Linked DNA regions of Homo sapiens: region 1 is reported to be linked to region 2. Evidence: microRNA targets listed by miRTarBase, many of them from high-throughput screens and not tested one by one. Region 2 holds a microRNA gene; the other region holds the end of a gene's coding sequence.
The links. The annotated mature microRNA hsa-miR-6874-3p reads CAGUUCUGCUGUUCUGACUCUAG and lies in region 2 at 5,310-5,332, opposite strand. An mRNA with a match to its seed (bases 2 to 7 or 8) in the 3' UTR can be bound and repressed. Matches are read on the target gene's strand: a 7mer-m8 pairs with bases 2 to 8, a 7mer-A1 pairs with bases 2 to 7 and ends in A, and an 8mer does both.

Region 1: the mRNA of NSD1 is a reported target of hsa-miR-6874-3p. Seed matches in the 3' UTR shown: 7mer-m8 at 5,500-5,506.

The regions. Positions count from the first base shown.
Region 1 is chr5:177,294,111-177,301,110 of GRCh38, reverse strand. NSD1 (nuclear receptor binding SET domain protein 1) reads right to left here. Exons shown (of 23, transcript NM_022455.5): 23 at 898-7,000. The coding sequence ends at 5,652. Among named protein-coding and RNA genes, the nearest start is that of RAB24, 6.1 kb to the left of the region's middle. RefSeq lists a silencer at 531-724 and enhancers at 632-741, 4,410-4,909, 4,910-5,411.
Region 2 is chr7:5,706,531-5,715,342 of GRCh38, forward strand. MIR6874 (microRNA 6874) reads right to left here and starts at 5,380; the gene lies at 5,310-5,380. RNF216 (ring finger protein 216) reads right to left here. Exons shown (of 17, transcript NM_207111.4): 11 at 8,523-8,660; 12 at 6,185-6,333; 13 at 5,231-5,309. RefSeq lists an enhancer at 2,107-2,176.

The DNA of each region.
Region 1 (7,000 bases), not on the chromosome of region 2:
ACATCCTACAATGTGGTTTAATGGTAGGAAAGTCCTAAGTTCTGTAAGCCAGAAAGGTCTAATGGATCCAGATTTGGTTCCAATTCAGCTGCTAATTTAGAAAAGGGACTTAAATCCTCATCTTGAGTTTCTCATCTGTAAAATAAGGTGACTACTATGCAGCCCAAGGATTGTGAAGAAAGTGAAGAGTAACTCTAGTACTAAATGTTTTTCCCAATCTTCCCAAGCACTTTTTGCTGAAAGGGCAGGAAGTTCAGGACTAGGTCACAAAGGGAAGCAAACTCCCAAGTTTTCCCCAAAGAAGATCCAGATATTTCTGAGGAATCAGGTGTTAACTGTAAACAGGGCTGACACTTGCTGCTCAACCAGAAGGAAATTTATTGCAGCCCTTTCTGGTATGGAGGGTGTGGCCCCAGGCCAGGGGCTTTCCCTTAGTTTTATCCTTTGCCTCTGCTTTCCTGCCTTTATTTAGGCCTGGGCTGAGTCCTCTGCAGTGGCCAACACCTGCCTTGGAAAAATGTACAACTTAGCCAACATGGTCAGACTCACACTCAGAGAGTGCTTTGGTTCCACTTCCTTTTTAAAAACCAATTCCTCAAACTGCCCTTCCTTCATGAGTGATGGGGGCTTCCTGTGGAGGGAGACTGAAACTGAAACCAGCCACTCCCAACAGAGGGAGAAAGAGGCTTGGGCAGCCCTGTGGCTGCTGAGAGGAAACACACTATTCCCATGACGTGCTTGGAGGAAGGGCTTAGCTTCACAGTATCCCTGCGCCCCCCGCCCCCCACCTCGTACTATCTCTGGGGCTGGCTTCTGCTCTCACCCCAAACAATCCTCCCTCCTGTTAGACTACAACTCCCCACAGCCAATAAAACAAAACACAGGGCAAGGGCCATATATGAGTAAAGTTAAACTTTACTTTACAGTAAATTTTTTTTCTATATACAAAGAATTACAGTACATGTTTATGGGGACTCCTAACACAGGGCTCCCCTCTTTTTCACTAGGAGTTTCACTTACAGCTGACAATCTATGGGGGCGGGGGGGGGGGGGCGCGGCAAAAAAGCAATGATGGACCTTGGCTGATCCCCCCGACCCCTTTCTTAACAATATAGGTAGATGTCTATCGTCAGCTTGCCTCTTTGCCAAGACCTAGGAGGCGGCTCTGCCATGAGCTGCTGTGTGCTGCCCTCCCCACCTTCAGCACACTCATCTACACACACACAGGTAGCACCCACCTCGATGAGACCGCCTTGCTCTGGCCTGCCCCAACCCTGGAAGTTGAAAACATAGAACCATTTATTTCTGCTTCTACTCTCTGTGCCCATGTCTTGTCCACGAAACTTTGCTGAACTTCCAGGACCTTACACCTGAAGCCCCACAATAACCTGATGTTTTGAAAGCCATGGGAAAGCAGCTCTAGAGAAGGAACCACATAAGCAGAAACAGCGCATGTTAAACTCGAAACACTTCTTCCGAGGTTGTGGATTTCTAGTTTAATTCTTTCCACTTCCTTAGAAAATACTACCCTTAATCTTCATAAGCAGTAGAGGGGCTTCCATGAGTGGAAGAGGTAGAGAGGGGCAGAAGGGAGCTGAGGAAGACCCAACAACCAGAGCTCTCTAACAACCTGCTCCAGGCAGCGTGGACGGAGGCTATGGACAAGGTGGCCCCAGCCCTGAGAAACTCAATGGCCACCTTCACCTGGATATAGGATCTCTTCCACCTCTGGATTGCACTGGGCCACTCCAGGGTTGGGTGCAGGCTTCACTGAGGATCTTCCTTCTCCCCACTTTTAACAAAGCCTCAAACTTTTCTACATAAAATCTCCTCCCAAACAGGAACCCGGGTTTCTTGAGCTGCCAGTCCCTCAACCCTTGGCAGTGCTTATTTATACCGTGAAATTAGCACCATCATTACATTTTATTGTGTGTGTGTACAAAACAATGATCTATTCTTATTTCAATTTACACTATAGCAGCCTCTGGCCCTGTTGCACTGGCCCTAGGAAGCTCAGCTGAGAACTAACTGGCCATAGCCAATGACAGGCTCCCACAGCAACTACCAAGCAGTGACTTGGAATGTCTACACATGGAACTGCTCAAATGAAACTCAGCAAGAAAGGGGCTGGAGGCAGCTCCTTCTCTGCCATGATCTGAGAGAGGTTAGGACACTGGGCTCCTCTAACCTGGCTGATAAACCCCAAGAGGATGACAGTATCATTTAAAAAACCTTAGTAAAATCCACCTTATAGGGACTAAGGGTAAAACCTATCCAAGTTTCATGCTGTCCTCATTACTCCCTATGGGGGAATCTGTCAGGACTAAACTTTCTGCCATTCTGTTCTCATGAGGCAACATTAGAATTACAACCTGGGAGTCCGGCTCCAGTGAGCAGACAGTGCCGAGCCTGGGAAGGGATCAACAGGGTGTTTCATGCCCTGACCATAGTGTGGGGTGAAGGATGTAAAGAATAAAATAACTATTTTCATCAATGCTAAAGATTTGGTTCAGAAGAGGGTCAACACAGTGATTTAAGTCATCTCAAACTCAGTAACAGGGTAAAGCAGACATTTAAAAATGAGGATGTTTCTGTATCAATGACAGCTATTTTGCTATTAGACTGGGTTGGCTCCAGCAAGATAAGCAAATGAGGCTTTGAATGTAAATTTCAACATTTTTCATAATCTTTTTCTGACTTAGCAGGGCTAGATGTATTGGCTTTCTAGCTACCCATGGAGAATTTCAACTTTTGCCTTGTCCCTGGAAAAGGCCTCCTGGGGAGCTGGCTCCAAGGCAAACACTCTTGAGATCTCAATTTCCAAGCACATACCCAAATACCACCCTGCGTTAAGGACCAGAAGTTTTCTAAGATGAAAGATTTCCTTTTCACTCCAATTCACATCCCTTTGGAAAAGGGGTCTTATTACAAACTTCAGGGGACGTCCCACAGGGCTGGCAAGGCCACTCCCTCCCCACCTTCCTCCAAGAGTCACATTTCCCAACAGTTGTTGTGACTCTGCTTCTAATTGGATAGTGACTGCTTTCATGATTTTAACCATCTAGTATCACATGCTGCTACTGGTGGGCCCAATAGCTCAAATTTCTAGTTTCCAGTGGTTTTCTAGTTCCCATTCAATGGCCCTTGAAGGAAGCCCAGATGTCCATCCATTCAGATGAAGAACTGCTCCCCAAAATGGCTCAGAAGCTGTTTTCCCAGGCAGGTCTGGAACGAAGCCTCCAATGAATGGCGGAGAATGGAAAGAACCAAAATAAAACCACAAAGCAGCCAATCATGGCCCCTTTCCCTCACTCCCTCCTGTCCTGTGAGACATCTAGACTGCTGTCAAGTTGATTACCTACCAAAGCCTACTTTAGAGAAGCTACTTTAGAATCAAACTTCTCCACGGAAAATTTTTACATGGCCTGCACGCCCTCCCCCCGCCCCCCCCAAATTCACAGTTTATTTCATGAAACAAAGAGCTACGGTAATTTAACACACAACATAGTGAAAGGAGACTCTGACAGTGCAGTGCAGATACCTTTTTCTGATCACAACTACAGATGACTGGAGAGAAAAGGGCACAGGACTGGCACCAAGCAAACCCTACTCATATGACCTAAAAGATTAGGGAAAGGGACCTACTAGCTGCAGTTATATATTTATTATTCTCACACATGATAAATACTTAATATAATGAACTTTAATGTTCTCGGTGAATTTCTTTAAAAATATCTTTTTCATGGTTTAAAATTCTTTTAAAAGAAAATAAGATGCTTTACGTTTTCTCTTCCTTTTGAACAAAGAGCTTTTCCTCTTTGATGATGTGGGAAGAGAGAGAGGATGAAAGGGGAGAACTAGGCAGGTGGAATTCACAGAGGAGATTCCGAGGTCTCAGTGAAATGCAGGGATAGGCCCCTAAACTCAGGACAGCCCTGCCCAGCCTCGTCCCTCTGCCTGAGTTCAAGTGTCTCAACCTCAGAGACAGACTTTGGGAAATAAAAGCAGATTCTATTTTTAATCTTTAGATAAAGCGCAAATGCTTCTATAATAACTACTGTTCCCTCCGTGGAATTGATGGGAGTAACCTCAATAAGAACTTGAGGAAATTGGGACCAAATACAGAATCCTATTGAGAGCGTGAAAGCCATAACTAAGAGATAATGGCCAGGAGACGTTAGGGCCGGGGATGGCCTGCTGGCTAAGTTGGCAAAGCAGAGAGGTAAACATGTTGGTCTAAGGACAAAGGAGGGGTAGACAAGTGGGAGGAAACTAGCCAAACAGCACTTCCTGTTGGCAGTCTGTGAGCTGGGTGAATGGTAGGGCAGGGTAGCACCAACAGATTTCCCAGCCCTTGGGCCCCAGCTCAGGGCAGCAGTAACAGATAATCAGCAGTTAATAGGAGTCATCTCTTAGCCTGGACGTTGCTCTAAACACCACCTCTTGCCAGTCTTCAGGGAAGGGTTCTGGCTTGCCTTTGAGCTAAGTCAGCAGGCAGGTGCTCTCAATACAGAGCACAGCAATTCTCAGGGAGGCGAAGAAGAGGACTCCCTCCACTCAGGAGGGAAAAGGAATGGGGAAAAGAAATTTCCCATCAGGATCTGGTACTCTTCCTGAAGCTGGTGTGTCTAGCTCAGAGCTTGCCAGAGATTCCCTATGTCCACTGCCCGAGGCTCTGAAATCTGAAAGCACCTGAGTGTTTTAGGGAAATAGGGATGGGGTGGATTCATGTACAAAGAGAAAAATAGGTAGAAACAAAAGCAAAGAAAGAGAAGCTTGCCAAATGCCTTCTTCCACTGCTGGAAATCTACATTCGCACAGAGCCCGACTGCCCCTGACCACCTGCTCCTCCAAGGACTGATCTTGAGACTCTGCACAGCCCAGACAAAAGCAGCAGCGGCGACCCCACAGCCAACAGCCTTGCTGGCCTCAATGCAGCACCCTTGCATCTATAGAGGAGACCTCTGTGAGTGTGCGCGCATGCACACGCACCCATGCACACCGCAGCCAAGAGACACTTCCTCAACACAACCACTTCTGGTGCCACAAAGGACATTTCAAAATGAGTCTAAAGCCCCAGGGCCCCTCAGAACTTCCTGTTACTTCCTGGTCAAAGGTTCCTGAAAGCCTTGGAATCCAGGCTCACAGGGATGAGGCCTGTATCTCTCATCAGTGACTAGCACCCGGCCTAGAACACGTGAATGCTCAGGAAATCGCCACTGATTTGAAAGAACACCATTTCCTCCCAAGGGTTCCTAGGTGCCCTCAATGGGGCTCTGTCTGGTTGGGGAAATCGCTTTGAGAGCCCCTATACCTTCCAACCTGACCAGCGGAATTGAATTCCATACTTGACTCCAGAGTGGACTTTTTATTTCACGATGACCATGTGGAAAAGTTGGGGGAAAGAGACCCAAGTCTGTCTGTCTCCTTGGTTGGGGCCCACTGGATTTTCATACATGGTTCACACAACCATAAGCCCCCACTGGCTAATGTCACAAGAGTTCTGAGTGTTGGGATATGAGGAAAGAATAACAGTGGGAAAGTGTTCGGGGCAGATGTGTTTTTTTTTAAGGGGGAAAGAAAGAAAAGATTTCCCCTCCCCAAATGGTACCCTGGGGGCAGCTTGTTTGTTCATGTGACATTGATTGGTACTACTTCTGTTCTGATTCTGCACACTTGTGACTGGAAGGAGCCTGGTTAAGAGCTGGAAGTGTATTTTGCTCTGGTTTGGGGTCTTGCCCTCTTCCAAGAGACCAGCAAGTCTGTGCCAATGTCTGTGTGCTCCCAGCAGACCAGCAAGACTGTGCCAGTGTCTGTCCAGCCACTATGGGCCAGAGCCCTGCCCGTGATGAGGCTTTTCCCAGGGCCCAGGGACTTTGCTCTGTGGTTACCAACTTCTTTTCTTCAGTGGGGAGGGAGGCTGGGGCCTTCCCGAGAGACCTAAAAGATTGCCCACTCTTGGCGGCAAGTGCAGGTAGTTGCTGGCCTCCGACCATCTGCTTCGCCTGCTTCACCAGGCCCGGGGATTGGCTAAGAGGCCCTGGGGTCTGCTCAGCCCCTGCAGAAGCTCTTCCTGAGGCCTGAGTTGTTGGCTCATATAAAAAGGCCTTGGCAGGAGGCTGAGAAAGAAGTCTGGCCTGGGTGAGTGATTTAACAGCTTGCCAGGGGTCCTCTGAAGGGGCTGCTGCTTTCCCAGATGTCTGAAGAGGATCTGACACACAGCCTTTCTCAACAGCTCTCGGCATATGCCCCAGACCTTTGCTGGCAGGCCATGAACTTGACTCCAACACTGGCATCTTCTCATCAGCCTGTGGTGTGACCTGATGAGGTGAAGCTGCCCGCTCCTTCTGGCGAGGAGTTAGGTCTATGAGATCCATCACCAAAGCAGCTCTATTTTTTGACTGAGTATTCTGGTCCACAGGCCTCAGTGCTTTTTCTTTAGCTACAAGGGTCTGGACCACAGCTGATAGTACTTTCTCAGGAGGTGGGAGTCTCTGGGACAAAGAGGCATGGGGTTTGTCAGTAGGCCTGTCTGAAGTCTGGGGTTTGGGACTGCTAGTAATGAGCAGTCTGTCTGGCGGCGGAAGTCTCAGGCCAGTGGGAACTGAGGTTTTCTCCAGTGACTGGGGCCTTGGGCTGGCAGCACCTATGGATTTATCCAGCCTTGGGTCAGCCGTCCCCAGAGGTCTTTCCAGTGGTTGGGACCTGACTGAGGGTGAGGAGCTTGGGCTGGTCACTGGAGAGGGTTTGTCGCTTAGCTGGGGTCTTGGTCCTGCCACTGCTGGTGGCCTGTCCAGTGGCCTCTGGCTGGAAACCAAGGATTGGGATTTGGTCCCTGACCCAGCGAGGTCTCTGACCTTATCTAAAGGCTGGGGCCTGGAGTCAGTTCTCTCAAGAGGTCTTTCAGGTAGCAATGGCCTCTGACAAGTCCCTGCCAGAGCTTTTTTGGAGAGCGACAGCATCTGGTTGGTGTCAGCAGGAGGTTTATCTGACATTTTGG
Region 2 (8,812 bases):
TGGTTTATCTGTGTTGTTAGTATGTGCCAGGAGTTCCTTCTTTTCAAAGGCTGCATAATATACCAAATTTTAACCATTCATCTGTTGACGAACATGTCAGTAAGTGGTTTCCATCTTGTGGCTACTGTGAATAATGCTGCAATGAACACAGGAACATGCTGAGATCCTTTCCCAAAGGATTTCAATTCCTTTCCACCGGCTGCCTTTTCACTCTGTTGATGGTTTCCTTTGCTGAAAGCATCTTAGTAGTCACTTGCCTGTTTTTTGCTTTTGTCACCTTGTTTTTGGTATTATACCCAGGAAATCATTGCCAAGACTGATGTCATGAAGCTTTCCACCTACGTTTTCTTCTAGTTTTTATAGTTTCAGGTCTTACACTTAAGTCTTTAATCCATTTAAAGAGTTGATTTTTGTGTTATGATATGAGATATGGTATCAGCGTCTAAGTTCATTCTTTTGCATGTGGATATTCAGTTTACAGAGCACCATTAATCAGAGACTACCTTTTCCCCCGGTGGGTGTTCTTTGCACCCTTGTTGAAGATCAGCTGATCATAAATGTGTGGATTTATTTCTGAGCACTGTATTATGTTCCATTGGTCTACATGTCTGCCTGTTTAAATTACTGTAGCTTTGTAATAAGTTTTGAAGTCAGGAAGTGTGAGGCTTCCAGCTTTGTTCTTCTTTCTTAAGACTGTCTAGGATATTTGGGATCCTTTGTGGTTCCATATGCATTTTAGGGATGTCTTTCCATTTATTTATGTCTTCTTTAATTATTTCAGCAGTTTTTTATAGTTTTCAGTGTATAAGTCTTTACCCACTCCTTGGTTAAGTTGTTCCTAAGTATTCCAACTTTTTTGATGTATTATAAATTAGATTTTCTTAATTTCTCTTTTTGGAGTGTTTGTTAGTGTACAGGAACGCAACTGATTTTTATGTGCTAATTTTGTATCCTGCACCTTTACTGAATATATTAATTCTAACAAGTTTTTTTGTGGAAATTGCAGATTTTTCTATGTATAAGATCATGTTATCTGTGAACTTGCACGGATATAGATGCTTTTGCTTTTTCCTGCCAAATAGCTCTAGCTAGGGCTTCCAGTGTTATATAGCATGGAAGTGGTGACAGTGATATCCTTGCCTTGTTCCTGATCTTAGTAAAAAAAAGCTTTTCAGTGTGTGTGTGTGGTTTTTTTTTTTTTTTTTTTTTTTGTGACAGAGTCTCACTCTGTCGCCCAGGCTGGAGTACAGCGGCACAATCTCTGCTCACCGCAACCTCCACCTCCCTGGTTCAAGCGATTCTCTCCTGCCTCAGCCTCCCAAGTAGCTGCGATTACAGGCGCACGCAACCACACCCAGCTAAATTTTTGTATTTTTAGTAGAGACAGAGTTTTGCCATGTTGGCCAGGCTGGTCTCGAACTCCAGAATTCAGGTGATCCACTTGCCTCGGCCTCCCACAGTGCCAGGATGACAGGTGGGAGCCACCATGCCCGGACAGTGTGTTTAGTTCTCATACTTTGTGAATTTTCTTGCTGTTTGTGATTTCTAAGTGTATCGCCTTGTGGCTGGAAAAGATACTTGGTATGATTTTGATCTTAAATTTGTTAAGACCTGTATTATGATCTAATATTCTCCATCCTGGAAAATGTTCCATGCGCAACAGAGGAGAAAAAGTGTTTTCTGTGCCTGTTGGCTAGAATATTTTGTATGTGTCTGTTAGGTCTATAGTGTTGTTCAAGTCAGCTGTTTCCTTACTAATCTTCTGCCTGGTGGTGCTAACAATGATTGAAAGTGAGGTATTGCAATCTCCTACTATTTTTGTGTTATTTTTCCCTTCGGCTGTCAATATTTGCTTCACATATTTGGGTGCACTGATGTCGGGTGCATATACAGATGGTCTCCAACTTACAATGGTTTTACACTTTTTGACTTTACTGTGGTGTGAAAGTGATACACATTCAGTAGAAACTGTAATTCAAGTACCCATACAATCATTCTCTTTTTCACTTTCAGTACAGTACTCAATAAATTACATGAGATACTCATACTTTATTCTAAAATAGGCTTCCTGCAAGAAGATTTTGCTAAATCGTAGGCTAATATAAGTGCTCAGGCTTTTGTTTTCCTTTTTTCAGGAGCTTGCAAGCTCTTGCTTCTTCTGGTGCCTGTCTGAGGTATCACAGGCCCTCTGGAGCTGCTGTAAGCTGCCCAGCTCTTTTTTGGCCTCAGCAGCTCCAAGGCATCTAGAGTAGGTTGGGTTCTGCCAGCAGTGAGTTGGGTGAGACAGAAGCCAGTCCCTCAGGCAGCCCCTTGAGAAGCCCAAATGCTGAACACATGCTCTACTCTTCCCCTGGACCCAAAAAGCAGCCTTCGAGGTGCACTGGACTCTGCCTACTGTACCGTGGGTCCTCTGGCGCAGTACAAACCACCCAGCTTTCTCTTGTTCTCAGCAGCCCCCAGGGACCTAGACCATGCCAGGTCCCATCAGTGCTTCATCGAGTGAGACAGGAACGAGAGTCTTGGGCAGACTCCAGAAAACCTAGAATGCTGGACTCATGCTCCAACTCCTTCCCTCCCGAGAAGAGCAGGGAGAGGGCAATGAGGAGTCAGTACGTGCTAGTTTCACCATCCCATTTGTCCTCAGAGGTCCCCAACCTGGTGCCCTTTCCTGTGAGACAAGACAGAAACCAGTCCCTTGAGCAGCCTCCTGAAAGGTCTGAATATTAGATATATGTTCCAGTCTTCTTTTTCCTCCCCAGAAAGATGCCAGGAGTTGGGAGCTTCCTCCCAATCACATGGTGCTGTGCCAGGGGGAGGAACTCTGGAGAGCCAGCGTCACAAATTCCCCAGCCTTTGATGCAACTGGTTTCTGGATTTCTCACAGAGAGAAATGGTCCTTCCGTTGTTGTTGAACTGTTCTCTCTATGGGAAAAAGAGGGTCTGGAGCTTTCTCTTCTGTCATCTTGACACTACCCCACACCACATGCCTTTACGGCTTTTTCTGCAAGTGATCTAACTACTCACATGTTTCACTGACCACAAGAAGCTACATGGCTACCTTCAAGTTCAGCAGGCCATGTATATTCCTCCCATAGACAAACAAAAACATATGTGGTGTTCCTATTTGGGATCTTAAGAGCCCCTGGGAAGCTCCCACCAACATGCCAAGTTGATACTCACTAGATGCTGTTCCAGACTCATGTGTGCCCTCAGGCTTTTATTTTTTAAATTTTTTTCTTTTAAAGACAGAGTCTTAGTCTGTTGTCCAGGCTAGAGTGCAGTGGCGCAATCATGGCTCAGTGCAGCCTCAATCTCCTGGGCTCAACTGATTGTCCTGCCTCAGTCTCTTAAGTAGCTAGGACTATGGGCACACACCACCATGCCTAGCTGAGTTTTAAAATTTTTTTTGTAGAGATAGGGTCTATGTTGCTCAGGCTGGTCTCGGACTCCTAGTCTCAAGAGATCCTCCTGCCTCAGCCTCTCAAAGTGCTGGGATTACAGGCATGAGCCACTGGGCAACCAATGCAGCTGCTTTTAAATGTCTTCAGGCTGGGGGTGGTGGCTTACACCTGTAATACCAGCACTTTGGAAGGCTGAGGTGGGCGGATCACTGGAGGCCAGGAGTTCAGGACCAGCCTGGCCAACATGGTGAAACCTCATCTCTACTAAAAATATAAAAATCAGTCAGGCGTGGTGGCGCATACCTGTGATCCCAGCTACTTGGGAGGCTGAGGCAGGAGAACTGCTTGAAGCCAGGAGGCGGAGGTTGCAGTGAGCTGAGATCGTGCCACTGCACTCCAGCCTGGGCAACAGAGTGAGACCCTGCCTCAAAACTTAAAAACAAAAACAAAAACAAAAAACGTCCTCAGAGAATAATGGTCTCTCCTCTTCTTTGGCCTTCCCAATTGTACATAAGCACTTTCACTGGCAGACCTTCTTTGAAACCTTACCAGGAAATGTAGTTCCCAGCTCCTTCTAAGCAACTCATGAAGACCCAAGAGGCTGTGCAGTGCTGTACATTTCTCACCTGGACTACTCAATAGGCAAGTAGACTTTCCTTATATTTTATCTCTCCCCACCTCAGGACAGTGTGCTGCATGGGCCTGCCCCTACTCAGCTTATGAGCCTCCTTCACACTCCTAGCACCAGTAAGCGTCCACATTGCTGCCACTCCCGGGGCCTAGAACATTTCTCCATCTCCACTCCACTCCCACCCTTTCCATCCTTTGGCTACTTCCTCCTTATCTGCTGCATCTTAGCGTAGGCATCACCTCCCCAGGCAGTCCAACACCTGACCCACTGGAAGCACACAAGGGACACGCTAGCACTCTGCTTTCTTAAGAGCTGCAAGATGCCAGCGACTGTTGTGACAATTGTTATAGCAACAGCCTGGGGTGCGAACATATAAAATGGCCAGAAATATTAATGCTGAAAACAAAAGAAATAAAGTTTTGATCCATTAGTTTAGTTTATTCTTCCTTTTCTAATCTCTACCTTAATTTCTTTACTCTCCCCAAGGCAAAGATATTGCAGTGTTCAACTCTAATCATGCAATTTTAGAAAAATGGCTTAGAGCGTATTTGTCTAGGTGGATGCTAATATTCACTAAAAACTCTAAGTGGCTTCTAAATAGCTGAAAGATTTTAAGACATTCTTAGTTCACAGGGCGCCAAGTTAAAGGGAACAAAGATCTGCAACAGTAATGCACCTAGACAGCTCTGCTCCCACGTAATATAGTCAGTTCTCATGAGGAGAAACAGTCAAATAAATAACCTACCAGATGTGATGGAGATGCCACTAAGATGCCCAGTTCCTCAATCAAAGAAGCGTCGTTTGGACTTTGAAAATGGCAAAAGGTGTGTGTGTGGGGAGGGAGGGGTAGCAGGGGCTATTTGAGCACAGGTGGTGAAGAGAGCAAGCAAGAAAAATGTTGACACAGTGGAAGAAAAACTAAACACTTCCCACTTTACATTATAGTATCTGTCCTAAAGAAGATGATATAAAATAGGAATCCAGAGCTTTGTAACTGGAGTGGCAAGAGTGGCTGCCATCTCAGTAACCATGTCAACCGTTACTCACAAAGTACTCGTCCTCATTTGCTTATGAAAAGGAAAGCACTCAAATCCTTCTTATACATCAGCAGTCAGGTAAACAGCAGATATTTGGGCCATGAGGGCAGCCCATAATACCATAATTCAATATACATCTAGAAAAAAATGTGCCTCCCTACCTTTCGGCAGTGAGGATTAGGACAGCTGAACCTCTTCACATCACTGTCCAACAGAGCCGGAAAGCTACAGGACGGGCACCTAGAGTCAGAACAGCAGAACTGACATTACTTCAAACATTAAAGCCTGATCTGGTTCCAGCTCCATGTGGCTGTTCATATGAAGATGGAGTTTTGAGCTGGACATTCACATCCCCTTTATACTCCTTAGTTTTCCTTAAAAACACAGATTGAACCTCTTCTTTGTGCTGGCTCTTATCAGGAAACATAAGCACCACATGAGGTCCTGACTGAATATAAACCACTCAATAAACACGTCCCAACCTTAATGAGAACTCCTTGCATATACCGATTTCCCTCCAGCCCAGGGCACCATGATTGTATCTACGGGCCAGAAGATTTGGGGGTGCCAAGATATGTAGACAGAAGTTTGAGCTACAGTCTGGGCGCGGTGGCTCACGCCTGTAGTCCCAGCACTTTGGGAGGCTGAGGTGGGTGGATCATTTGAGGTCAGGAGTTGGAGACCAGCCTGGCCAACATGGCAAAACCTCGTCTCTACTAAAAATAAGCTGGAATGTGGTGGTGCACGCCTGTAATCCAGGCTACTCAGGAGGCTGAGGCATGAGAATTGCTTGAACTCAGGAGGCGGAGGTTGTAGTGAGCCAAGATTGCACCACTGTACTCCAGCCTGGGCGACAGAGCGAGAATCCACCTCAAAAAAAAAAAAAGAAGTTTGAGGGGCAGATTTTTCCATTAATAGAATTACTGGTTACTCAATGGTTCTGAGGCGTAAAAAATAAAAATAAATAAGTAAAATTATTGATAATCTTATTTCTCAGCAAGAAATGTCAAAAAACCTGGAAGATAAACACAATTTTCATCATCTGATGCAAGTGCCCAGGTAGTTTTCACAATGGGGAAGAGTTGGCAGATGGCACGCTCTGCCTGAGAACGAACCTGACAAGCTCGTCGGCGTAGGCTGCCGCAACCTCCTCCTCGGCTTTTCGCTCATAGTACTTATACAGGATGGTCTGGGGGAGCACCTTCTCCAGCTCACTGGTTGGGAACGAACACGTGCAGCTGCCTTCCATGCAGCTGAGCTCCAACTAGAAAAAGGCGAAAAGGCAAAGAAAAAAAAATCAATACCATTTATAGAAAAATAAAAAGCGTCAGTGGTTAAAAACATAGATCCTGAGACAACATAGCAAGGATCTCTCTGCCTGTTCATCTCTGAGAAATCACACTTAAATCATGGAAACCATGAAACAAAAATCCAGTACATCTTTGATATCACTAAAGGACCTCTATTAGCCCAAATCACAATCCACAAAGACTGAAAGTGGCGGAAGGGCAAATGGCTTAGCAGACCACACACAGAAGCCCATAGCTTAGGGTCTGAAAAGGAGATGCTGGGGAGAAGTTGTTCCCCTCTACAGATATTAGAAAGCTGGAGAACCTCTGGAAAGCAGAGCTGAGTGGTGGGGAGGGGCAGGGACTCAAAGTAATAAACTGAAAACAGGGACATGGGTGGAGCCTCTAGTTCCTACCCGCTTCAGAAGGAATTGGCTGACTCTGAGAGAAATGAGGAAGATCTCCTGAACAGCTGGACCACACGGCTCTGGACTGGAAACCACTCATAGAGGAGAGCAGAGCTGAGGGGTGGCCTGAAGTCAGAGTCTGAAATGGAGTCTGCATAATGAACAGAGAACTCTCCAGACCTTTCCTCCCCCTCAGTTTCAGAATGTTGGAAAATGGGCTCACACCCACCAGGCAGGAGGCAGACTGAATCACCCCAGGTAAGAGACTTCAGAGCCATTCAGGTTCATAATATAAAAGCTAACTGGCTCCTATGCACCTAGAGTCAAACTCACTGGTCTATAAGCCCCACTACTCACACAGCTTTCAAACAGCTCTTTAACATGAACAAAAAGTGTCAGACATGAGGAATGCTTCCCACATGAAAGACAAACACCAAAGAAAACAAATGGAAAAAGACGACATTTTAAAAATAACTAGCTAAAATTTATGAGGCATTTACCATGTGTCAAACAATAAGTTCATTAAACTCATCACCTCATTTAGCTTTCAAAACAATGCTATGATTATTTCCATTTTACAGAGGAAGAAACAGTGGCTTAAGGAATTTAAATTGCTCAAGATCACAGGGCTAGTATGGCTGATGGGGGCATGGCCCAATGCATTCTGCTTGACTCCAAAGGTCACGCTCTTTGAAAAAACATAAACTTTATTTATTTATTTTTCTGAGACAGAGTCTCGCCCTGTCACCAAGGCTGGAGTGCAGTGGTGCGATCTCAGCTCACTAAGCCTCCCGAGTAGCTGGATTACAGGCACCCACCACCACACCTGGCTAATTTTTGTATTTTTAGCAGAGATGGGGTTTCACCATGTTGGCCAGGCTAGTCTCGAACTCCTAATCTTGTGATCCACCCAACTTAGCCTCCCAAAGTGCTGGGATTACAGGCATAAGCCACAGCGCCTGGCCTATTTTTCTTTTTTAGAGATGGAGTTTCACTCTTGTTGCCCAGGCTGGAGTGCAATGGCACGATCTCAACTCACCACAACCTCTGCCTCCCAGATTCAACCAATTCTCCTGCCTCAGCCTCCCCAGTAGCTGAGATTATAGGCATGCGCCACCAGGTCTGGCTAATCTTGTATTTTTAGTAGAGATGGGGTTTCTCCATGTTGGTCAGGCTGGTCTTGAACTCCTGACCTCAGGTGATCCGCCTACCTCGGCCTCCCAAAGTGCTGGGATTACAGGCGTGAGCCACCCGGGCAAAAAGTCATCTTCTTAATCACTGTGTTAGTTTTCTATTGCTGCTGGAACAAAATACCACAAACTCGGTGGTGTAAAACAATGTAAAATTCCCATACTGTGTTTGTTATGCTGGTGTCCAGAGAAACTCACTTTGGAGAGAGAAATATGATCTTGTGTAAAGTAAGTTATGTTATTTTAATATATATTTAATCCAATAGGCTGCAAGGTTCTCTCTTTCTGAGGTAACCTTCCCTCTGAATACAAATAAGATGATGAACGAAGGAGGTGCTCCTCTGCGGCTAGGCGTGGGAGTGTGGAAGAATTCTACTGTGCCCTGAAAAGAAATCTGCTGTGCTCAGAGAACCCACATAATCACATACATCAGGTAATGTACACATAAGCATACCAGCAGAACTCCACCTCACCCTCAAAGAGGCACTTACACTTATCTATCAACATGGTCTCCTTAGACTCCAGGAATGTGTCCTATATACATGGGACATATTACACAGTTCTTACCTTTCCAGATCCAAAGACTGCCTCTTGGGCATATCTGATGAGACACTCTTTGCAGAACAAGTGAGCATCTGCGCACTGCGTCAGCTCCTCGAATGGAAATTCCCCATAGCAGCAGCGACACTCAATCAGCTGGCCATCCTGCAGGCAGTCAAGAAACACACATGAAATGTCCTGCACTTAAGGAGAGGGGGAGCCTTGTCTCCCATCCTCATCTCTCTGCCACCCCCCACACAAATTCTGAGGTAAAGCAACCCATTTTAGGGGCCATAAAACAATGATATGCTGTTTCG